Linked DNA regions of Homo sapiens. The protein of the gene in region 6 interacts with the protein of the main gene of each other region in a biochemical or structural test. Each region holds a gene or a part of one and is shown on either strand. Other genes may lie near its edges. The genes, in order: RANBP10, PYM1, NDFIP2, TRPV4, DDX54, NEDD4L and SENP2.

Evidence for each region.
Region 1: of the proteins of NEDD4L (region 6) and RANBP10, one has a biochemical effect on the other in vitro, tested with the Homo sapiens proteins (one large-scale study listed by BioGRID).
Region 2: of the proteins of NEDD4L (region 6) and PYM1, one has a biochemical effect on the other in vitro, tested with the Homo sapiens proteins (one large-scale study listed by BioGRID).
Region 3: of the proteins of NEDD4L (region 6) and NDFIP2, one has a biochemical effect on the other in vitro, tested with the Homo sapiens proteins (2 studies listed by BioGRID, with this or other methods).
Region 4: the proteins of NEDD4L (region 6) and TRPV4 interact in a test that uses a peptide from one of them, tested with the Homo sapiens proteins (one large-scale study listed by BioGRID).
Region 5: the proteins of NEDD4L (region 6) and DDX54 form a complex in vitro, tested with the Homo sapiens proteins (one large-scale study listed by BioGRID).
Region 7: the proteins of NEDD4L (region 6) and SENP2 form a complex in vitro, tested with the Homo sapiens proteins (one large-scale study listed by BioGRID).

Annotation. Positions count from the first base shown.
Region 1 is NC_000016.10:67,722,570-67,726,560, reverse strand, and holds the end of RANBP10 (ran-binding protein 10), read left to right. Parts: intron 1-2; coding exon 3-133; 3' UTR 134-3,491; downstream 3,492-3,991. UniProt on the Homo sapiens protein: May act as an adapter protein to couple membrane receptors to intracellular signaling pathways.
Region 2 is NC_000012.12:55,900,913-55,903,894, reverse strand, and holds the end of PYM1 (partner of Y14 and mago), read left to right. Parts: intron 1-414; coding exon 415-508; intron 509-1,539; coding exon 1,540-2,023; 3' UTR 2,024-2,482; downstream 2,483-2,982. UniProt on the Homo sapiens protein: Key regulator of the exon junction complex (EJC), a multiprotein complex that associates immediately upstream of the exon-exon junction on mRNAs and serves as a positional landmark for the intron exon structure of genes and directs post-transcriptional processes in the cytoplasm such as mRNA export, nonsense-mediated mRNA decay (NMD) or translation.
Region 3 is NC_000013.11:79,533,155-79,536,654, reverse strand, and holds part of NDFIP2 (NEDD4 family-interacting protein 2), read right to left. Parts: intron 3,333-3,500; coding exon 3,199-3,332; intron 1-3,198. UniProt on the Homo sapiens protein: Activates HECT domain-containing E3 ubiquitin-protein ligases, including ITCH, NEDD4, NEDD4L, SMURF2, WWP1 and WWP2, and consequently modulates the stability of their targets. As a result, may control many cellular processes.
Region 4 is NC_000012.12:109,798,899-109,802,398, forward strand, and holds part of TRPV4 (transient receptor potential cation channel subfamily V member 4), read right to left. Parts: intron 1,861-3,500; coding exon 1,720-1,860; intron 15-1,719; coding exon 1-14. UniProt on the Homo sapiens protein: Non-selective calcium permeant cation channel involved in osmotic sensitivity and mechanosensitivity. Activation by exposure to hypotonicity within the physiological range exhibits an outward rectification.
Region 5 is NC_000012.12:113,182,679-113,186,970, reverse strand, and holds the start of DDX54 (ATP-dependent RNA helicase DDX54), read left to right. Parts: upstream 1-1,492; 5' UTR 1,493-1,519; coding exon 1,520-1,693; intron 1,694-4,292. Other genes in the region: RITA1 (RBPJ-interacting and tubulin-associated protein 1), read right to left, coding at 1-288, 950-957.
Region 6 is NC_000018.10:58,399,633-58,402,039, forward strand, and holds the end of NEDD4L (E3 ubiquitin-protein ligase NEDD4-like), read left to right. Parts: 3' UTR 1-1,907; downstream 1,908-2,407. UniProt on the Homo sapiens protein: E3 ubiquitin-protein ligase that mediates the polyubiquitination of lysine and cysteine residues on target proteins and is thereby implicated in the regulation of various signaling pathways including autophagy, innate immunity or DNA repair.
Region 7 is NC_000003.12:185,613,795-185,617,294, forward strand, and holds part of SENP2 (sentrin-specific protease 2), read left to right. Parts: intron 1-769; coding exon 770-946; intron 947-3,500. UniProt on the Homo sapiens protein: Protease that catalyzes two essential functions in the SUMO pathway.

The DNA.
Region 1 (3,991 bases), on a different chromosome or scaffold from region 6:
AGAGTCCCAGAACCTGCCAAAGCAGCCCCCTCTGATGCTCGCCCTGGGCCAGGCATCTGAGTGTCTCCGGCTCATGGCCCGAGCAGGCCTGGGTTCTTGCTCCTTTGCCAGAGTTGATGACTACTTGCACTAGCTGACTGTGCTGGCTGGCTCTGGCTGGCCCTCCACTGGCCCCAGGGCTGGAGCTGCCCTGCCCTCCATAGGCAACTGGTGCAGGGACTGGGAAACCATAGACAGAGTCCACTCCTCCTGCCTGGCCTTTCCCCCTCTCCCTTTCCTTCCTTCCTTCCTTTCTCTGCCCACCACCCCGCTCAGTCTCTCTCTCTCTCCCCTTCACGTGCAGCGGCCTGTAACACAGTATTGGCTGGTTACTCTCATGTAGCGCCTTCTATTTTGAAAGGGGGGTTTTGTTTTGAGGAGGGGTTGGGGTTTTTAAATTTTTTTCTCCTGACTGAGCCACCAGTATTTATCTCTGGAGAGTTTGTGCTGAGCTGGTTTCTGCTAATTTAGTGATGAAGCCTATCCAAGTTGGTGATAGCTTATTATTTTCATAAGTAAAAAACAAATGAGATTATATATATATATATAAAAATATATATATTAAAAAAAAAGACAGTATTTATCGTAGCATTAGTGGTCCAGCACCTCTTGGGTGAGGCTGTCCAGGCACCATGTTTTCTTTGAGTCCAACTCATTAAAAAAGAAGAATCTCTGTCACCTCAGCCAAGTGATTTATTTTTTGCTCCCCCTTTTTTGAGTCACAGGCCGAGCTGCAGCCTAGGAAACCCAAATAGGGTTTGGTGGGCCACTTAGTGGGCATGGTTACATTGGTTTATAGCATCCCAAGAACTGTAGATCCCTAGGCCCCTGAGAGCTGGACAGAGCAGAGAACTACAGGGCCAAGGGTCCAGAGAAGTGATAACTTGGCCCAGGGCCACACAGCAGAGGTAGAGGGTCCTTGGCCAGCACACTATCTACCACTCTACCCCACCTCCCACTGCCTGCCTTGCTCCCCTTTCCTCCCTTTTCAATACCCTATCTTCCCTTGTTGTTAAGATGGCCAAATAATACATTTACTCTAAATTGATTGCCTGGAAACTACCTGCCTTCGTCCTGAGAGCTTCTGTGTGTCAGGCTGCTGGAAAGAAGACTCCATTCCCAGGACAGAGGCCCTTGAGTACAGGGGCTGCTTTCTTCCTGCCTAGATCTTCACCATCTCTGCACAGCTCTGAGAGAATGGATGCTTTCTGTTGAGAAACCAGTACCTTGTGGAGGCAGGTTCTTGGGCTGCTACTCCAGGGAGTGGATGGAATCCTTGGTCCCCTAGGCCAGACTTCACTGCCACTGTGCCAGACAGCTCCCTGCAGCTGGGCCCTAGCCACTCTTAGGAAAGACTATTGGGAGTATTTGCTGGCCAGAGAATGGGACTCTATCAGCTTTACACATGTCCCACCAGCTGTTTCAGATAGATCCTTACAGCTGGCAGAGTAAAAGTGGTCCCGCTACCATTGGGGAATCAGGAAAGGAAAGACTGAGATGGTTGCCAGGACTTGGGGTGGCCCACCTGTGGAGAGGACTGGCTGCCCTGGAGGAGGAAAGGGAGGAAGTCTACACAGAGGAGCACCAGGACGGCTGGAATTTCCATATGTGCTTCACATTGTGAGGGGAGTGCACAAGCCGCCCATGCAAAGAGTAGGGTCAGCCATGGCAAGGCCGGAAGTTGAACTTTCAGTCCCTGCCTGAATCTGGGCTTTGCAAGCTCCTGCTCCATATTGGTGGACATGGGAATGGTTGGTGTGGCCTGAGATACCCATTGCTCACCAGGCCTCACTGGGCCCACAGCTGGGCAACAAGAAAAATGTTTGAATTGGACCAACTGCTGGTGATGGGGCCAGGGCCCTGGGCCCTGTGCTGTCAGAATTCTGCCTTGGGAAATGATCCTATAGCTGCTGCTTTTTCTTGGTCCTTGGGGCTGGCAGACCCATAGACCATGGCCTGTTAGGAGGCGTCCTGTCTGTAAAGGAAATTCATCTCTTGTGACAGCCTGGGGCTACCTAGCTCCCAAACCCAGAAGTTGGAGACATCAGGCTGTTTAAATGATCATAGCCTAGCAGGATTGGATTAAAACCACAGGCTTTTGCAGCTGGAATGGGGTTCAGTGAACATCTCCCCCATTCCTCTCTTGCTACAAATAAGGAAACAGGCCCAGGAGATTAAGTGACTTGGCTAAAGTCACATAGCAAATTAGTAGCAGAGCCGGGACTATCCCTTATCCCTGTGGGTTGGGCAACACTATTTAGTCCTGAAACCGAATGGCAGATAAACCCCATGAGGGGTCAGGCTGATGTGCCCTCCAGCAGTATCTGAGAAGCTGCTACCTTCAGGGGTGTGTCAGGGATGAGGACGGGTGCCTGAGCTTAGGTTGTGGAGTGGCTGAGAGGGCCCAGGAGGGCTCGGGACAGCTGTGTGCTGCATGGGGTTGGGTGTCTGCCTGGCTCGCACTTGGTACCCATGGCCACCTCCCCATTTTCTGTGCCTTATCTCACTGTTTCAGCTGAGTCCAAGTTGTTTACTCTGTTCCTCTCCAGAGGGGCTCTCTGTCCCAGTTGGGCAGCTCACCTTTGGGACATAAGCCTTTGCCCCACAAGCTGTGGAGAGGGCCAAAACCAAGCTGCTTGAGCCCACTCTCTTGCTGAGAGTCCAGGCCTGCCTGCCTGCCAGCCAGAGGTGCCCCTTATGCACATCCAGTCCTACCAGCCTGCTTCCAGGAGCCTAGAGTGGGAAAGGCACCTGGGGGAGCCCTGGTGAAGGGCTGGACCTGACCCATGGAGGCAGGAGGAAGACCTGGCTTTCTTGGTTTGTCCGGCCCTGGGGAGCAGCCTTCCCTACTCACTTTCCCCTTGCGGCACCAAATGGTCACTCCTTCCAGAGCAAAAACTGGCACTCATAGCAAGCCAGAACCCCCATCCCCATCCTCATGGGTCTGTGGCTGGGTGCAGGCCATCAAAATGGACACCACGAGACAGAAGTGGGGACTGCCTGGCCACCTAGCGCCTTCCCACTCCTTAAGCAAGCACAAAGAAGATGAGGCAGAGAATTGTCAGAGCTGAAAGTTCCTTTGGTTGCTCACAACTCAGGTATGCACCCATGTGGCAGCCAGGCAGCGGAGCCCTACTAGACTGCCAGTCTCATGCACCCAGACCTGTGGCCAGATTGTGGCCTCTGGCTGCCTCAGGCATTTTCCTCTTTGCATTGGGTTTTCCTGCATTAGTAACTACAGCTGCAACAGACATCCTCCACATTGTGCACACTGGTTTTGCCTTTGTCCTCAAGAGTTGATACTTGGCATTAGCATGAAACTTGTGGGTGTGGGAGGATGGAGAGAGAACTCTAACACAAAACATCTTATTAAAATTGTACTTGAGAGACAAAAAAAAAACTCTGTTGTATTTTGACAGAATTATTTTTATTAAAATACACATCCATGAGCAGTCATGTGTGTCTGGTCTCTGTTTTGAGTCTTACTGAGGTTGGCACCCCTTCTGTGACACATCCTGTCCTAAAGGATTTGGGCCCTTCCCAGCCTCTCAAGTGCCCAGGCCCTCAGGTGCCTTCTTCAAGGACCTTTGAAACTGTGTATTTGTAAGACCCCAAAGAGGACAGGTACTTAAACCTCAGTTCTCTCTTGAAACGGCTTTCTTCTTATACAAGGAAAAAGTAGCAAATTCAACTAAAGAGCCTGGGCACAGTGGCTCACGCCTATAATCTCAGCACGTTGGGAGGCTGAGGCAGGTGGATCCCTTGAGCTCAGGAGTTCGAGAACAGCCTGGGCAACATGGCAAAACCCCATCTCTACAAAAAATACAAAAATTAGCTGGGCATGGGGGCGCATTCCTGTGGTCCCAGCTATTCAGGAGGCTGAGGTGGGAGGATCACTCGAGCCCAGGAGGTCAAGGCTGCAGTGAGTTGAGATCATACCACTGCACTCCGG
Region 2 (2,982 bases), on a different chromosome or scaffold from region 6:
TTGACCTATTTTTTTAAGTTCCATCTAAATAAAATTTCTCCTTTACAACATCCGCTATTGTCATTTCTCCTCCCCGTGGTTTTTGTGTCTTTTTAGCCTCTTGTTCATTTACTGCCTTTCATGTTCCCATGCTATTGCCTTGGTTTTTTAACAAAATTCTTCCTCTGTGCCTATCCTGTCTTACCTACAAATAGAATCTTCTTGAGGGCAAGGATGGTTTCTTGTACGGTGTATTGGCACTCGGTAAATAAATAATGAGAGAGGGATTGAGTGTTGGTATGAGAAAAGGAGCCTAATGGTTGCATTTGGATGAATGGGTGCTGAGAGATGGTATGTACATTTATACATTCTTGTCTCATCTTGTAAAATGTTTGAAAATAAGAGTAATTTTCAACTTGATTTTTCTTATTTTAGGCAAGTATATCGCGTCAACACAGCGACCTGACGGGACCTGGCGCAAGCAGCGGAGGGTGAAAGAAGGATATGTGCCCCAGGAGGAGGTCCCAGTGTACGTGGTTAGGCTTTGCGTAGGGGTTTTCTGATGGGGTCCCTACAGAAGGATAGAATATCCTTATGCCTACAAGTTCAGGGAGGACTCTCCTAAGCCCCAAGGAAATGGAAGGAGGGGCAACTATCTGAGAAAGGAGAGAAAGAGTCTGGGATTCAGGGATGAGTGAGGGTTACAGATCACTAGTCCTATACTTTTGACCTCTGTTCATTAGAACCTCCAGAGCTTTAGGTTCTAGGGACTTCGCTGCATCTTTCCTGCAGAGCAGAGGAAAGTTGGGGAGGGACCATAAAGAGAGAAAGGTGGTCAGGCCCAGTGGCCTACATCTGTAATCTGAGCACTTTGGGAGGCCTAGGCAGGTGGATTACTTGAGGTCAGGAGTTCAAGAACAGCCTCCCCAAAGTGGTGAAACCCCGTCTGTACTAAAAATACAAAATTACAAAATACAAACATCAGCCAGGCGTGGTGGCACGAGCCTGTAATCCCAGCTACTCAGGAGGCTGAGGCAGGAGAATCTCTTGAACCCGGGAAGTGGGAGGTTGCAGTGAGCTGAGATTGCGCCAGTGCACTTCAGCCCTGGCGACAGAGCGAGACTCTGTCTCAAAAACAAACAGGCAGGCGCAGTGGCTCTCTGTAATCCCAAGCACTTTGGGAGGCCAAGATCGGTGGATCACCTGAGGTCAGGAGTTGAAGACCAGCCTGACCAACATGGTGAAACCCCATCTCTACTAAAAATACACAGTTAGCCAGGCGTGGTGGCAGGCGCCTGTAATCCCAGCTACCCGGGAGGCTGAGGCAGGAGAATTGCTTGAACCCTGGAGGTGGAGGTTGCAGTGAGCTGAGATTGCGCCATTACACTCCAGCCTGGGCAACTGAGCGAGACTCTATCTCAAAAAACAAACAACCCCACAAAAACAACAACAAAAAAAGGAAGCAAGAATGTAATGAGGATGAAGTGTTTGGAAGTTTAAGAAAAGGGATCAAAAAGTCAGTAATTCTCTGAAACTCTTGACATCCTTTGTTTCCTGCAGATATGAAAACAAGTATGTGAAGTTTTTCAAGAGTAAACCAGAGTTGCCCCCAGGGCTAAGCCCTGAGGCCACTGCTCCTGTCACCCCATCCAGGCCTGAAGGTGGTGAACCAGGCCTCTCCAAGACAGCCAAACGTAACCTGAAGCGAAAGGAGAAGAGGCGGCAGCAGCAAGAGAAAGGAGAGGCAGAGGCCTTGAGCAGGACTCTTGATAAGGTGTCCCTGGAAGAGACAGCCCAACTCCCCAGTGCTCCACAGGGCTCTCGGGCAGCCCCCACAGCTGCATCTGACCAGCCTGACTCAGCTGCCACCACTGAGAAAGCCAAGAAGATAAAGAACCTAAAGAAGAAACTCCGGCAGGTGGAAGAGCTGCAGCAGCGGATCCAGGCTGGGGAAGTCAGCCAGCCTAGCAAAGAGCAGCTAGAAAAGCTAGCAAGGAGGAGGGCGCTAGAAGAGGAGTTAGAGGACTTGGAGTTAGGCCTCTGAGGCCTTTGGGGAATAGGGAATGGACTGCAGAACAAACCGTGGGGCTCTCTGGGGTCTGGGGGAATACGGGCAACAGCAGTCAGGAGGGGTACCCCCCATACTGGCTTACTTCCACCTCCTGCGGCCCAGCTCTGTCCTCCAGAGCCTAGCGTCTCCCTCAATCCTTCCCTTTTCTTCCCAACTTCTACTTTTTGGACTTTCCCCCTCCCATTCCCAGTGTTCAAAATCTCAGTGACTACCCCAGGTACCTTTGCTGCTGATTTGGGTGTCTTGTTTAAAAGAAAATCAGGTGGGTGGGAATCTCTTGGAGAACTGAGGCTGAGGGTAGAGGGAGTATGCCCAAGTCTTGGAGTCTTGGTTCCTGTTCGCGGTGTTTATGGGTTATTTCCCTCTCCATCCCTCATTTTTTTTTTTTTTTTAAAAAAAGCAAAAATGAGAATAAACACAAGTAGACATGTCTGGCTTTGCCTCCTTATTTTCAGCTCCTAGTAGATATTGTATCTCCTGAGTTTGGCACAGGAAGACAAGTATTGGGAGTGATTTCTTTTCTTTTCGAGACAGAGTTTTGTGCTGTTGCCCAGGTTGGAGTGCAGTGACGTAATCTGGGCTCACTGCAAACTCTGTCTCCTGAGTTCACGCAGTTCTCCTGCCTCAGCCTCCCTCCCGAGTAGCTGTGATTACAGGTGCCCACCACCACACCTGGCTAATTTTTTAGTAGAGATGGGGTTTCACCATGTTGGCCAGGCTGGTCTTGAACTCCTAATTTCAGGTGATCAACCCACCTTGGCCTCCTAAAGTGCTGGGATTTTAGGCATGAGTTACTGTGCCCAGCCGATATATATTTTTTTCTTTTTCTTTTTTTGTGAGATGGAGTCTCGCTCTGTCTGCCAGGCTGGAGTGTAGTGGCGCGGTTTCAGCTCACTGCAACCTCTGCCTCCCGGGTTCAAGCAATTCTCCTG
Region 3 (3,500 bases), on a different chromosome or scaffold from region 6:
TTTCAATAGCATATTGATTACAGGGAATTTAACTATTAAGTAACAGGGAAATATTTATATAAGATGTTTAAAAAATAAAATGGTATCTAGGCAATAATTTCAACTACATTAAACATTAATTTGTGAATCCTGAAATTGGTAAAGACATCAAAATATTTTAAAATAGAGAGCTGTAACAGAACACCTGTGGTGTTTTCCTCTTTCTATTTTCCCACATTGGCTAACACAAAGAAAGCATTCATTAACTTAATCAACTGTCATTGACTAAACAACAAAAATGTGCCTGATAAATAACTAGGTACTGGGAATGTAAATGCAAGATCTCTGTCCTGGTGTTGCTCATGATTTATCTAGTCAAAAGACAAGTTACTGCAACAATTTAAAACAAGTTACAAAAAAAGAGCCCTACCCATTATAAGATGAAATGAGTCTACCTGAAGAACAAGCCATGTTCTAAACATCTTATAAAATTAATAGTTTGGAATTAGCATTTTTCATAGAAATATTAACAATGAGTTGTCATTTTCAGAAATCTACTTAACCATTCCATAACATACGTGCAATTCTACACATCAGAAATAGGAAATAGTAAAAACAGTAGTTTTAAAGTCTCTTGACTATCTATATTCTCCCAGTGAGAGTTGATTTAGGAAACAAGCTTTCAACTCACCCAGCTGAGACTCATTTACAACTGAATGTACTCAAATGCTAATTTGATGAGACTTTTTTTCAATTTTTAAATTTTGTTTGTAATTGACAAAAACTGTATATATTTATGATGTATTACATGATGTTTTAAAATGTGTATACATTGTGGAGTGGCTAAATTGAGCTAATTACCATGTACAGTACCTCAAATATTTTTTTTGTGCAAGAACGCTTAAAATCTACTCTCCTAGCAATTTTCAAGCATTGACCAATTTTTCATCTCAATCAGGTAATGGAGACTCATATGCAAACATTCATACTCTGCACAAAGAGGGTGCTGAAGCACCGGGTTAGGAAGCACTGGTAAATTTATAAGATTTTTTACAAGACCTAAGTTAGTCTCTTGTACACAATTCTATTAATACTTTGCTGTCTATGAAATTTTCCACAATGCTCACAAGCTGGGGTTACAATGATATCAGAAGCAGGTAAAAACAGGGAGCTTTTCTTTATGGACATGTTCCAATTCTGGCTGAGGATTACATTTACTTTCTAAAACAGGGTGCTGGAAATGATGACAATGAGGGAATGGAACAGTAATACTTCAGACTTTTCTCTTCAAAAGGGGTAAAATCAACTTTTCTCAAAGCACACTTACCAAGACTTAATGCTTCCTACCTTGTCTTTAGAATTCTATCCTATTGTATGGAAGTTAGGGCAGTAAATGATCTACGGTCCATAATACTTCTTAAGGTCTCTGGGCAAACACCCCCTGAGAAAAGGAGTTATTGGGACTTTCATAGCTAGAGAGGAATCAATCTACTTCACTGAGAGATGTGCATGTTCATTTACAAATATATGTGTTCTAAGTAACCGAGAACTTATTTAGACAAAAATACCCTATTTAGATCTATCCTCCTCCTCTGTGATGTTCCCCTCAAAGCAACAAAAATTCTTATTGACTCAGCTATATTATGCCACTGTGTTAAGAGACTTACTTTCCTCCTCTGTGAAGGAAAAGGCATAAAAAATAAATTCGGAGTTTACTGTCTTTATCTACCTTCATAACTGTGTCCAAAGCTATTTATGTTGACGTTTAACCCTGTGTGTGCTGGAAGAGGGTAGTAGGAGCAGGCATAAATAGGGTTATTGCTGATCAAAGAAACACATTCAGGGCACATGCTCTTCTCTCAGAGGATCTGCTTGCTGGGCTCTGACCTCATAGCAGCTAGAGGAGAATGCCATACATGGAAGCACATCTCTCTCCCTTGACTCCTCACCTAATTCTAGCTTTCCTGGGTGAATTGATTTTTTTGTCTTTTTCCCGAACAAAATGGGGTGAATCCAGGGATCTGAAACGGCATCTCTCAAGTCTGAAGCAAGAAAAAAAAGGCAAAAAATTCTAGCCCTCCTTGCAGCCACACTAAAATGTAAATAATTTCTGCCTCTTACCTGGCTGCAGAATAGTAGATGTGTATGTATCTCACTGACTCTCCATTACTGAGACAGCCACTCCATTTACCAGAGCAAAGAGTAATACACATGTATCTCATTAACTCCATTACTAAAACATGTAGATGAGGAAGACAGAATGCTTGATCATCATTCCAAAATTCTAGAGTAGAATGTTATCAAAAAAAAAAAAAAAAAAAAAAACAGCTGACAAAAATAATTTGAAGGCCTTGTAACATTTCTCTGTGTTTTTTGGCTACCTTGAGTTCTTTCACAGTCACTAAACTGGCTATGCTAATATAGAAACATAAATAGAAAAAAAGATGATTCACAATTAAAATGATAGGCCATGGAATTCAAACTATGTAAGAAGATAAATAAGTACATGGACAGCAAAGAGGTCAGTGGACTTGAGGTCCAGGCAAAGAGAAGAACTTTCCAAGTGGTGGTAACCAGAGTGAGTGAGTTAGGATGCGAAGTGAAGGCTAACACATGAGGGGCCTGAAATCAAAATTTAGGAAGGGATAAGCGGGGAAGAGCAATAGAAAAGAGGAAGTCAAGGGATAAAGAAGGTGAATTTAACTAGGAGAATGCCAATTTCAACAAAAAGTGACCACACACATAAGCAACAGTAGAACAAATACAGTAACCCTTCAACAATACACGGGTTAGGGACACCGACCCACCTGCATGCGGTAGAAAATTTGAGTATAACTCTGACTTCCCCAAAACTTAACGACTCACAGCCTATTGTTAACTAGAAGCCTTACTGATAACATAAACAGTCGATAATACATAAACTACTATTTACATGTATTTTATACATTCATTACAGGCCTTTTCTTAATTTTTTTGATATTTCTAGGCTATGCAATTTGTCCCAAGTTTTTTCAAATTGCTGCAGATCTCCAAAATATTTTTCCAATATATTTATTTAAAACAATCTGCATACAAGTAGACCTGTGCAGTTTAAACCCATAATGCTCAAAAAAAATCTACATACACACTTACACACAAAGAACTGTTTTTAGTATTACTAAATGTATATATCAATTAACGAAAATAATTTTATCAAAAGAAATGATGAAATTTTCTTACTCTTTGAGATGTTTCTGCTGCTGCAGCTGCCATTGCAGCAGCTTTAGCCTTCTCAGCTTCATCGTATGTAGGAAGAGAGGTAGCAACGCTATAGGGAGGTGGCACGGGATAAAACTCACCGTAAACTTCTGTATCTGAAGAAAGAATTCAAAAAGAATAACCAATAAAATCTATTTAATTTTGTAGCCATAGCCATGACTTAATAATTTACAACTGGCCACCAATACAGGACTACTATTGCTATTATAGGCCTATGTTATAAGCTATAAAATATATAAATTACTATTACAATCATATATCTT
Region 4 (3,500 bases), on a different chromosome or scaffold from region 6:
CAGGGGCAGCTCCCCTGCGGGCCAGGGTGAAGGGTGGGAGGTCAGCGAAGGGGGCCCAGGGTGGGACTCTGCCTGCAGACACTCGGGGGACGGACACCGTGGCGCTCTGAGGATAATGACGGAGACAGCACCAGCAGTGGATATGAACTGCACGTTTCTCTGGGTGATGCCAGGGAGATGGGGTGTGGCTAGTTAAGGGCACAGCCACGCGATTTGGAGGCTGTGAGGGACTGGACACATCCAATGATGGAATTCTTTTTTTTTTTTTTTTTGAGACAAAGTCTCACTCTGTCGCCTAGGCTGGAGTGCAGTGGCACAATCTCGGCTCATTGCAACCTCCACCTCCCGGGTGCAAGCAGTTCTTGTGCCTCAGCCGAGTAGCTGGGATTACAGGCGCACGCCACCACACCTGGCTAATTTTTGTATTTTTAGTAGAGGCAGGATTTCGCCATGTTGGCCAGGCTGGTCTCAAACTCCTGACCTCAAGTGATCCGCCGACCTCGGCCTCCCAAAGTGCTGGGATTACAGGCGTGAGCCACCGCGCCCAGCTGATGATGGAATTCTTTGTGTGACTTTGTCCCTGAGCTGCACATAATGAATGCCTTTAAGCAGGGGCAAAATTCAAAATATTTCATGAGTCCAGTGATGACAACGGCAGTGGTGGGCTTTGGGCCTGGTGATGGGGCTGTTGGTCCCAGCATAAACCAGATTAAAGCACACAGACAATACAGAGCTGGGCGCTGACATCACAGCCCAAGGGCCTCTCGTGATCCCCACTGCACAGCTGGGGAAGGTGAGGCTCAGGGAAGTGAGGTCACATGCCTGGAAAGTGCAGAGTGAGGATTTGGCTTTTTTTTTGTTCTTTTCTTTTTGCTTTTTAAAGACGGGGTCTTGCTCTATTTTCCAGGCTGGAGTGCAGTGGTGCAATCATGGCTTACTGCAGCCTCGAACTCCTAGGTTCAAGTGATCCTCCAGCCTCGGCCTCCCAAGCAGCTGGGACTTCAAGCACATGCCACCATGCCATCTAACTTATTTATTTATTTATTTATTTATTTATTTTTTGAGACAGAGTCTCACTCTGTCACCCAAGCTGGAGTGCAATGGGGAAATCTCGGCTCATTGCAACCTCTGTCCCCCAGGTTCAAGCAATTCTCCTGCCTCAGCCTCCCAAGTAGCTGGGATTACAGGCACCCACCACCATGCCCGGCTAATTTTTGTTATTTTTGTAGAGATGGGTTTCACCATCTTGTTGGCCAGGCTGGTCTTGAACTCTTGACCTCAGGTGATCCACCTGCCTCATCCTCCCAAAGTGCTGGGATTACAGGCATGAGCCACCGTGCCCAGCCATTTTTTAAATGTTTAAAAGAGACAGGGTATTGCTATGTTGCCTAGGCTGGTCTCAAACTCCTGCCCTCAAGCGATCCTCCTGCCTTGACCTCCCAAAGTGCTGGGATGACAGGTGTGAGACACCGTGCCTGGCTGGAGTGAGGATCTGAATCCAGGTCCATGGTACTCCCCATGGCACTTACACCTCAGAGGCAACGGCCCTGTGACCAAGACCAACGTGCAGCCTGTGGTCCAGAGTGCTGCCTGCGCTCATGGCCAGAGTGGCCCTGGGTGTCTGGGTGATGGTCAGGGCTGCAGACACCAACCAGTATCATGCTATCTCCCGCCATGCTTCTCCAGCATGCTGTCAGCCCCCACCAGGCCCCTCCTTACCAAAGTAGAAGTAGCCCCCCTCATCCTTGGGCTGGAAGAAGCGCCCACGGGCCTGGGCGTGGACATCAGCTCCCTGGGCCACGAGAAGTTCCACGTAGTGTTTGCAGCGACGCTCAATGGCGATGTGCAGGGCTGTCTGACCTGGGGGCAGGGGACGGTCATCCAGGGTCCTGGCGGAGCAGAGACCTAGCCAGGCTTGCTGGGGGTGGGGGTAGGGTGCAGGACGTAGAAATTGGGGGGTGGGGGATGCAGGCAGAGTCCTGCCCAGCGACACCCAAGGGCAGCAAATAGGTCCTTGGATATTCCCTGGGATCCATCGCAGAAGCAGAATCTCAAGCCTGAAGGATACCTAGTTTGTGGAATCCTGAATGTGAGAAGTTTTTAGATTCATAAGATGCTTTAAAAATCCTAGAGGAGGCCAGGCGCAGGCTCACGCCTGTAATCCCAGCAATTTGGGAGACCAAGGAGGGAGATCACCTGAGCCCAGGCGTTTGAGGCAAGCCTGGGCAACACAGTGAGATCCCATCTCTATAGAAATGCTAAAAATTAGCTGGGCCTGGTGACTTACACCTGTGGTCCCAGCTACTCCAGAGGCTGAGGCAGGAGGATTGCTGAAGCCTAGCAGTTCAGTACCAGCCTGGGCAACTGATATGGTTTGGCTCTGTGTCCACACCTAAATCTCACCTTGAATTGTAGTTCCCATAATCCCCATGTATCATGGGAGGGACCCTGTGAAAGGTAATTTAATCATGGGGGCAGTTACCCTCATGCTGTTTTCATGATAGTGAGTGAGTCCTCAAGAGATCTGATGATTCTATAAGGGGCTTTTCCCCCTTTTGCTTGGCACTTCTTCTTCCTACCACCATGTGAAGAAGGACATGTTTGCTTCCCCTTCCACAATGATTGTAAGTTTCCTGATGCCTCCCCAGCCCTGCGGAACTGTGAGTCAATTAAGCCTCTTTCCTTTATAAATTATCCAGTCTTGGGCAGTTCTTTATAGCAGCATGAGAACGGGCTAATACAACAACATAGTGAGACCCTGTCTCTACAGAAATTTTAAAAATTAGCCTGGCATGGTGGTCCATGCCGGTGGTCCCAGCTACTTGGGAGGGTGAGGTGGGAGACTCCCTTGAGCCCAGGAAGTCAAGGCTGCAGTGAGCCATGATCACACCACTGCACTCCAGCTTGGGTAACAGAGCAAGACCTTGTCTCAAAAAAAAGAAAACTCCTAGAGGAAACAACAGTACCTTGGCCTCCCAGAATTTTGGACTCAAGATATAATATTCATGGATTTTGAATCTTAATATCCAGGCATCTGAAGGTCAACTCTGATTTACAGAATCTCAACTGGGGATTGGCCCAGTTCTTGGCCCCCTGCTGCCTTTGCCTCTTAGAACTTGTGAACTCAGGACTTATTATCATAGAGCCTTAGAGTATCCGCCACCACAGCATCTTAGGGCCAGATCCCGAGTTCATGATCACTAGACTCGCTGCATCTCAGAATCTTGGAATCTTTTTTTTTTTTTTTTTGAGACAGGGTCTCACTCTGTCACCCAGGCTGGAGTGCAGTGGCACAATCATAGCTCACTGAAGCCTTGACCCTCTGAGCTCAAGTGATCTTCCCACCCCAGCCTCCCAAGTAGCTGGGACTACAGGTGTGCACCAACAAGCCTGGCTTTTTTTGCATCTTTTTTTTTTTTTTGAGATGAGTCTTGCTCTTGTTGCCCAAGCTGGAGTGCAATGGCGCGATATTGGCTCACTGCAACCTCCACCTCCCAGGT
Region 5 (4,292 bases), on a different chromosome or scaffold from region 6:
CCCAAGGCCTTCGATGCCTCCTTGCCCACGCCTCTGGTTCTGTTAGCCTTCTCCACCCAGGGCGGATCGAAGTCCGGTGGGGTAGGCCGGGTGCCTGCTGGGCTGCCAAACAGAGTCTCATCCACATATGACGTCCTGGCCTTGACCCGGTAGCCACCTCGGCAGCGGTGCTGAAGGCCGAGGGTCTGCATCCCACTGACGGCCAGCTCCACGGGGGTCTTCATGCTGCCTGTGGTCCCTGGTGACAGCAGGTGTGCTCTGCCGGCCAGGCCCTGCTTCCGAGGCTCCCTGTGAGAGGAGGTCAGAGTAGCACCCCTGAGCCACAGAAGTGCTAATGGAGGAAGACCGGTAGTGTCTGAAGTTCTCATCCCAAGGGTTTAGTTCTCTCTCAACCAGTCTCTCAAAGGGGAGCTGTCAACTTCAGGGGGCATTTTGGAAATTTCTTTGGCTTTTTTTTAGTTGTCATAATGGTGGTGAAAGGGGGGCTACTGGCAATTATTTACAGAATGACTCTGGCGGTGAAGGAGAGATGACACCTGTGTCTATTTAGGCACCAACCAGAAAACACACTATGGTGGTAGGGGAGACAGGCACTTTCCTATGTGTACTGATGGGGGTGGGGGCAATGACAGCCAGCGTGGATCCCATGCCTACCTCCTGCAAAGAGCTTTACAAGCATTGTTTCATTTAATCCTCTCAACAGCACTGTGAAGTAGCTTCGAATTTGTCCATTTTACGGATCACAAAACTGAGGTGAAGTCACATGTGTAGGTCACACCTATAAAGCTAAAACGGTGGAAGTGAAATCTGAGTCCAGAGCTTGTGTACTTGGCTACACTGCTATCGGGAGATCACCGCCGCCCCCACCGCCCCACATTCTGCGACTCCCAAATCAATGACCCGATTAAAAAGTGCCCGAGGTCCCTGCATTTTTGGGTTGTTCTCCTACCTGAGCATCTTGGCTCGTAGGCATCGGGATCCTCAGGGACCCGTCCCCGCACCTTCTTCCCACCAGGTCTGGACCCGTCGGTGAGGGCGCGGGGGCGCGCGGTGCATCCGGGATCCCCGTCAATCTGCAGCCCGGAATGCCTGGGGCCCCGGACCCCCGGCAGCCTAGGCCGTCCCGGGGCACCGCGCGCGGACGGACTCACCCGAGGAGCCGGCACAGGCTACGTGTGAACGGCCCGCGAATCCAGAAACCCAGAACCCAGCACTTTGCACCCAGCAACCAGGGAGCAGCCAGCAGCACTGCGGACGCGGCCCGGACCATTCGCGCCCGCGGATGGGGGGAGTCCGCCCAGGGGCGGGCGCCACGCTCCTGAGGCCCAGGAGGTCCCTAAACATGGAGAGGGTCCTCTGGTGCCACTCACTCAGGTGCGTGTGTACTAGGCCGCCGAGGGCCGCAGGCACTGGCGAAAGCTCAGCGGAGGTCACGTGGTCACCGCACCTCCCCCCCCCCCACGCAGTTGGTGCGCTCCTCAGGCCACGCCCCCTTCTGCGTTCCCAGCGCGCGGCCCGAATGGCGGCCGACAAGGGCCCGGCGGCTGGACCTCGGTCGCGAGCTGCCATGGCCCAGTGGAGGAAGAAGAAAGGGCTCCGGAAGCGCCGAGGCGCGGCCTCCCAGGCCCGCGGCAGCGACTCGGAGGACGGCGAGTTTGAGATCCAGGCGGAAGATGACGCCCGGGCCCGGAAGGTAGGCGCGTGGGGCTGGGACGCATGTTCGGGCCCGAGACCCGGCTCCGGGCAGCGCCTCGAGGCCTCAGTTTCCCCAGCTGGGGATTGGGCTCCGCAGAGTGTGGGGAGGGAGGCTGCCGACCCGAGGACCGGTCTTGGGACCGCCGGCCTGAGCACGTGTCTCGGGGCTTGTCAGGCTCAGGGTTCCGCGGCCAGAGCCTTGGGATCCCGGGGCTGGAGCCTGCGGGCCTTCCTGCCGGGTTTTGGTCGCGCGTCTCTCATTGGCTGCCTCCTGCTCGTGGGGCGGATCCTGGCTCCCTTTCGCCCAATGAAAAGTGCGGGTGCAGAAGATCTGACTTTGAGAGTTTGGAGCGTTCTTGGGAGGTTGAATTAAGGGGAGGCCAGACTGCGTGGCTTGAGACAGTGTGACGCCTCCAAACCTCTGGGAAACGAATTAAAACAATTTTTTTTGAGACAGAGTCTTGCTCTGTTGCTCATGCCGGAGTGCAGTTGTGTAGCCACGCCTTGCTACAGCCTCCGCCTCCTGGGCTCAAGCGATCCTCCCACGTCAGCCTCTCCGGTAGCTGAGACCACAGACATGCGCCACCACGCCCGGATAATTTTTAAATTTTTTGTAGAGACGGGGGTCTCCCTATGTTGCCCAGGATGGTCTCGAACTTCTGGCCTCAAGCAGTCCTCCCACTTCTGCTTCCCAAAGTGTTGGGATTAACAGGCGTGAGCCCGGCCAGTTTGTGTTTGTTGACCGTTTACTATGTGCCAGGCTCCATGCTAAGAGCTGTACGAGCCTTATTATTTAATCCTCACACCAACGTTGTGCTAACACCACCAGCAACTGTCATCTTCATTTTTCTACAGGAGGAAACTGAGGCCTAGAGGGTTAAGAAATAGTCAAAGGCCTGGTGTAGTGGCTACACGCCTGTAAACCCAGCACTTAGGGAGGCTGAGGTGGGAGGATTGCTTGAGGTCAGGAGTTCAAGATCAGCCTGGGCAACATAGGCAGACCCCGTCTCTACAAAAAATTAAAAAATTAGGATGGCCGCGGTGGCTCACGCCTGTAATCCCAGCACTTTAGGAGGCTGAGGCAGGCGGATCACCTGAGGTCGGGAGTTCAAGACCAGCCTGGCCAACATGGTGAAACCCTGTCTCTACTAAAAATACAAAAATAGCCAGGTGTGGTGGCATGTGCCTGTAATCCCAGCTACTCGGGAGGCTGAGGCAGGAGAATCGCTTGAAACTGGGAGTCAGAGGTTGCAGTGAGCCGATATTGCACCACTGCACTCCAGCCTGGGTGACAGAGCAAGACTCTGTCTCAAAAAATAAAAATTAGCCTGGCTTGGTGGCGCCCACCTGTGGTCCCACCTCCTGGAGAGGCAATGTGGGAGGATCACTTAAACCTGGGCGGCGGAGAGTACAGTGAGCTGTGGCTACACAACTGCACTCCATCATAAGCAACAGAGCAAGACTCTGTCTCCAAAAAAAGAAAAAAAAAAAAAAGGGAGATCCCATCTTTACAAAAAAAGAGAGAAAGCAGCTTGACCAAGACCTCACAGCTTGTGAGTACAAGAGCCAGGAGATTCAAACTTGAGACTGTCTGATTCCAAGGCCTGTGCCGTTTCCATTACTGAATGTCATGTGTATGCACATGAAGGGATGGGTGTGAGCACCAATGGGGCAGAAGGGCTGCGCCCATTATTTCCCACAGTCCTGTTCCCAGCGGGTGCCTGGCACCAGGTAGGCTCAGGGCAAGATGAGTAAGTGGACATTTATATGAAGAGAAAGGATCACACTCCAAGGCAGGAACTAGAAGAGACCTCATCCCACTGTCCCTCTCTCATCTTCCAGCCTAGCCAGTACCTGGCACACAGTAGGTGCTCAACAAATGTAGAGAAACTACTAAAGGTAATGAACAGCACAGGCGGGCAGAGGTGGTTATTACCAAAGAAGAGGAGTCTAAGTGTAGTTCAGACCAAGGGCTTCTCACGGCACTGCCCTGTGTTCAAATTTGGCCCAACCTTGCACTGGCTGTGGGACATTGGAGAGGTTGCTTAACCTCTCTGTGCCCGTTTCCACATCCGTAGAAGGCAAGTAAATGATTATATATGTTTCAAAGGTTGTTGGCCCGGTGCCGTGGCTCATGCCCGTAATCCCAGCACTTTGGGAGTCCGAGGAGTGAGGATCACTTGATGCCAGGAGTTCGAGACCAGCCTGGGCAACATGCATGGCGAGACTGCATCTACAAAAAATACAAAAATTAGCCAGGCATGGTGGTGTGTGCCTGTAGTCCCAGCTACTTGGGAGGCTGAGGTGGGAGGATCACCTGAGCTAGGTGAGCCGTGATTGCCCCACTGCACTCCAGCCTGGGAGACTGAGTGAAACTCTGTCTCAAAAAAAAAAAAAAAGTGTTGAAAAGACCAAAGGAGGCTGGGCGTGGTGGCTCATGCCTGTAATCCGAGCACTTTGGGAGGCCAAGGTGAGCGGATCACTTGAGGTCGGGAGTTTGAGACCGGCCTGGCCAACATGGTGAAACCCCATCTCTACTGAAAATACAAAAATTAGCCGGGCTGGTGGCATGTGCCTGTAGTCCCAGCTAGTTGGGA
Region 6 (2,407 bases):
ACCCACCACCACGCCTGGCTAATTTTTGTATTTTTAGTAGAGATGGTTTCACCATGCTGGCCAGGCTGGTCTTGAACTCCTGACCTCAGGTGATCCTCCCGCCTCAGCCTTCCAAAGTGCTGGGATTACAAGCATGAGCCACCGCACCCGGCCTCACAGTGACAGATTCTGAGAAACAGCATGCAAAACATTTGAACCATTTTCTACATCTCCCATTGTTGCATAGAGAGTGTGCACCGCTGCTATCTTGCCAGATCCACACTGGTCCTCCCGAAAGCCAGGTTCATACACAGCAACTTTTTAATTATTCTAACAGTTACCCATTAACAGTCGACTCCTGTATTTCTGAGAGTCTTGTACTCACCTCTGAAATTTAAAAACGTATAAAGAGAGCCTGGGTTAATCAGTTCTGCAGCCCCTACGTGACACTGTGCTAGTTCTCCTTCTTCTGTCTCCTCCTTACCCTGGCCCTGCACCCCTGTACTTAAGAGGGAGAGGTGGGAGGTGCTGTCTGGTATCATTTGCTGCCTCGCCAGTAGAGGGTGCCGCTGTGCAGGGTAACTGCCCGCCTGCTCCCTTCCTGACCTCCCCTGACCCCGAAGATCACTACCTCTGTCATTCAGGCATTGGGGTACATCCTGATAAGTCGTGTCAGAACTGCCAATTTCAGGACTGAGATGTGTTTTTAAAAAACAAATCCTTATAAACTCCACTTTGTACTTTAGATTTTAAAACTGGGGAAAAATGTGATATTCTTTGGACCACTTTTTTAATTTATATAAGCCTTAATGAACAGTGTCTATACATTTGCATACACACACCCCCACCCCAGAGTGTTCTCAGTATGTCAGAGAAAGTGCCACAGCATTAGGACGGGAGCTTGGAGAACGTTTTCTAGAAAAGGGTTAGCTTCCTGTTGGCATGAAATTTTCCAAGCAAACCTCATTAAACATCTGTTGTTTGTTAAAGATGTTCCACTGAAAGCAACGCATGTTTCAAAGGCACGTCTTTCCGTTCGTTGGTTTTCTGTGTGTAAGGAGTAGCATTGCTGTTGGCGCCTAACCTCGCGTGCACTGCATTCTCAACCCCGTACCAGTGCATCATCAGAAGCCTTCCTCGTGACCATAACTCTGTGTCTGCAGATATGTGTTCCCGTGTAAGCCAGTTTTCCCCTTTTACTCAGACTGATTTCACCTAGATTGTCACGGTTTCCTTCATGTTAACTTTGCGTGACTTTGTTCTTCCTTTACTACTCTGTATGTAATATATATACATATATACGTACATATGCTGTCCAAATATATTTGTATATATTTGTATAGCATTTTTACACCTTTATTGAGTAATCTGGTTTCGAAAGGAGGTGAGAGTTTAGTCCCTTCTGCAGTTTTCTCCAAGCTGTGTCCTGTGAATTTCAACCCTTGGAGCCTAAGAAAACCCTAGGAAGATGATGTTAATTTGCTGTCATTTCCTAATTCAGGATCTATCATCAAATGAAACATGAAAAAAACAGTGACTTTTAAGGTGAAAAGAGTTTCAAGCATTCCAAATAAATTATCAATGTTTCATAACTTTTTATTATAAACCCACCTCCTAATAGGAAGCCAAGTACTATTTGATACAGTGGTAAAAACCAAACTACCTTGAATTTTTTTAAGGCAACTTATGAATAATGCTCATTTTCACAGTCAGAATAGCTTTAAAATATGGTTGAATTTGATACACACAGGAAGTTTTCTTGAAGAACAATCCTTTCGCTTTTCTTTTTTCTTGAGAGATCTAAAGAGAAACTGTAGATTGTTTTCCTGACAGCAAAAGACTAATGTGACAAAATGAAGTCATTGTAAAGAAGCGATGCAACTTGTCAAATATTTAATAAAGAATTATGGAAGCTGGAACATTTTCTACATCAAGTGTTATGGGTTGTTTGATTTAAAGCTTCTTTGTGAATGCACCATCTTAATTGTTGTCAGAGGGGTTTAAATGCCTGCAGATTTATAGTATGTTCATTTCCTTCATCTCCCTAAAAGCGCCGCACTTTTAAAAACATTAAAGTCTGGCAGGGCACAGTGGCTCACGCCTGTAATCCCAGCACTTTGGGAGGCTGAGGTGGGCAGATCACTGAGGTTAGGCATTCAAGACCAGCCTGACCAACATGGTGAAACCCCATCTCTACTAAAAATACAAAAAATATATATATATATTAGCCAGACGTGGTGGCGCATGCCTGTAATGCCAGCTACTCAGGAGGCTGAGGCAGGAGAATCGCTTGAACCCGGGAGGCAGAGGTTTCAGTGAGCTGAGATTGTGCCATTGCATGCACTCCAGCCTGGGTGACAGAGCGAGATTCCGTTTCAAAAAAAAAAAAAAAGTCTGCCCAAAACACATGGCTTAAGCCTACTAAAAG
Region 7 (3,500 bases), on a different chromosome or scaffold from region 6:
TCCAGCCTAGGTGACAGAATGAGACTCTGTCTCAAAAAAAAAAAAAAAAAAAAAGGCAGGAAGCATTGAAAATACACAACTTTTTTCTTCCTTCTGAGTTGTTGGAGTTTTGCCTCTGTACAGTAGCCACCTTTGTTTATGAGAGACCAATCTGCCTCCATACCAACATGTTACCTACATTTTATGGCTTCTTAGGGAGAATTTCTTAAAAATCATACATCTCTGGAAAGAGATGATATGTTCTGGGTTGCTGGCAGAATTCTATTTGTTTACTACAATTGTGGTTATATAGGTGTTCATTCAAATTAAGTGGTACATTAATGTTTTGTGCATTTTCTGTAATATCAAATGACTTTTTTCAAGGATAAACTAGAACCAAGTTGAGTTACTATAAAGATAGTAGGGATTTATTCTGAGTGATGGGATTGTGGGTCATATTTTTTGCTGTTTAAAACTTTCATAATATCTTTTAAACATACTAATTTTAATTGTGATAGGAGAACTGAAAATACTTTTCTTGCTACTTCCAGGGAAGGTGGTGAGTGTTCTGTTTGATGGTTCATAACTGAGGGTCCTGTGAGGCCTAGGTCTGGAGCTTTTTTTGCTCCCCCTTGCAGGGACAGACAGATAGGGTAAATCTACTCACTTGGGGGATTTGCTAATTCTCTTTTCTTTCACATTAGTGGCAGTTTTATATTTCATGTGTAATCTGTGTTTATATTTGCAAGTATCAAACATGTCAGTAGAATTTAGATAATTTTTTGATCAGAGGAGGGGATACCAACTGGAGCCTGACCTATCAGAAGAAGTGTCGGCCCGACTCCGCCTGGGCAGTGGAAGCAATGGCTTACTCAGGAGGAAAGTGTCAATAATTGAGACAAAGGAAAAGAATTGCTCAGGCAAAGAGAGGGACAGAAGAACGGACGATCTCCTTGAACTTACAGAGGTATTGTTCTTTGTATTGATCCTAAAAAGAGGCATGTCTTTAAATAACCTCAGTTATTCTAACTTGAATGTTTTGTTTTGAGGACTTTCTCCAGGCTAGGGGTGAATATATGAAAACATGTCAGGTCCATGGTCTGTTGATTCACTTTGACTACATTGATCTTTAGTGAGGCATGATCATTAGTGGCCTAAGGGATCAGATTGATATTCAGCAAATGGGGAGTCGACACAGTCATCTCATATCTTGGAATACAACAGATTCTTTGTAAATTCTAACCTTCAAATATGTTGAGTTATATAGTATGGGTTTGGCATTAAGAATAAGTTCATTGCATTTTTTTTTTGAAAGTTATTATAGTTTACTAAAATGCCCCCTTTGTTGATTATTGCATTTGAAAATAGTAAAAACTTACAGAACATAAAGAATGAAGGTAGTTAAAATTCTTATTTTAAAGATGTGCCCACATCTTGGCTTCCTCCACAATGTTGCCCTAGTAGGCAAATCTCTTGAATACTTACTGTTATATTGGGCATGTAGGTGGAGAGAGAGATCCATAAAATGGTGAAGCTGTGTGCAGTGGGAAGCAGCATATATTTAGAAGAAAATAATTTCTTTTTTTTGAGACAGAGTTTCGCTCTTGTTGCCCAGGCTGGAGTGCAATGGCGCGATCTTGGCTCACTGCAACCTCTGCATCCTGGGTTCAAGTGATTCTCCTGGCTCAGCCTCCCTAGTAGCTGGGATTACAGGCACCTGCCACCATGCCCAGCTAATTTTTGTATTTTTAGTAGAGACCGGGTTTCACCATGTTGGCTAGGCTGGTCTCGAACTCCTGACCTTAGATGATCTACCCACCTCGGCCTCCCAAAGTGCTGGGATTATAGGCGCAAGCCACTGCCCCCGGCCTAGAGGAAAATAATTTCTATTGGGTTTATAGATTTAGTTTTGTATCTTAAATAATGCATTTATCTGCATAATTCTTTAGTATGATGAAGCCATTTATTCCATAAGGAGTCAATTGCTAGACTGCTGGGTGGTTTCCAAGTTTCTGCCTGTTTGCTTATTCTCTTCATGTCAAAAAGGATGGTGTGACCCCTTAGATGTCCTAATCTTATTTTGATGTTTTATTTATTTATTTATTTTTGAGATAGAGTCTCGCTCTGTTGGCAGGCTGGAGTGCAGTGGCACAATCTCAGCTTACTGCAACCTCTGCCTCCCAGGTTCAAGTGATTCTTCTGCCTCAGCCTCCTGCGTAGCTGGGACTACAGGCGCGTGCCACCACGCCCAGCTAATTTTTGTATTTTTAGTAGAGATGGGGTTTCACCATGCTGGCCAGGCTGGTCTCGAACTCCTGACCTCATGATCCGCCCGTCTTGGCTTCCCAAAGTGCTGGGATTACAGGCGTGAGCCACCACACCCAGCCTTTTTTGATGTTTTAAAAGTTTAAAGGCGAGAATGGGCGTGGTGGCTCACGCCTGTAATCCCAGCACTTTGGGAAGCCAAGATGGGCGGATCATGAAGTCAGGAGTTCGAGACCAGCCTGGCCAGCATGGTGAAACCCCGTCTCTACCAAAAATACAAAAAAATAGCTGGCATGGTGGTGTGCACCTGTAATTCCAGCTAATCAGGAGACTGAGGCATGAAAATTGCTTGAACCTGGGAGGCAGAGGTTGCAGTGAACTGAGATCATGCAGCTGCATGCACTCCAGCCTGGGTGACAAAGTGAGAATCTGTCTCAAAAAAAAAAAAAAAAGAAGGGCCAGGCTGGTGGCTCACACCTGTAATCCCAGCACTTTGGGAGGCCGAGATGGGCAGATCACGAGGTCAGGAGATCGAGACCATCCTGGCTAACACAGTGAAACCCCGTCTCTACTAAAAATACAAAAAATTAGCCGGGCGTGGTGGCGGGCGCCTGTCATCCCAGCTACTCGGGAGGCTGAGGCAGGAGAATGGCGTGACCCCGGGAGGCGGAGCTTGCAGTAAGCCGAGATGGCGCCACTGCACTCCGGCCTGGGAGACTGAGCGAGACTCCGTCTCCAAAAAAAAAAAAAAACGTTTAAAGTGGAAATCAGGAGTTTACTATTATGAAGGGAGCAAAGTCCAGGAAATTAGATGCACCTGGGTTCAAATCTTCTTCTACCTTTTAATAATTATATGACTTTGAATATGTAAAATAAATTCTCTGGGTTTCAATTTTCTTCTCTATAAAATGATAATAATGTCTTCCTCACTAATATGGATCAATGATGTGCTTCAAGCATCTAACACCATGTTTGACTCATAGTGGTTAATACGTAGTAGTAGGAAAATTGAGACTATACTTTAGATGTAAATATTATTATTAAATTATTGTTTCCACAAGCTAATAAGTGAACCAGGATTTGTTGTAAGTATTACTTACAACAATTAAGTAAGGCTGCTTTGTAGTTATAAGTTAAAATATTTTCAGGGCTGGTGCAGTGGCTCATGCCTATAATCTCAGCACTTTGGGAGGCCAAGGCAGGTATTGCTTGAGCCCAGGAGTTTGCAACCAACTTGGGCAATATAATGAGGCCCC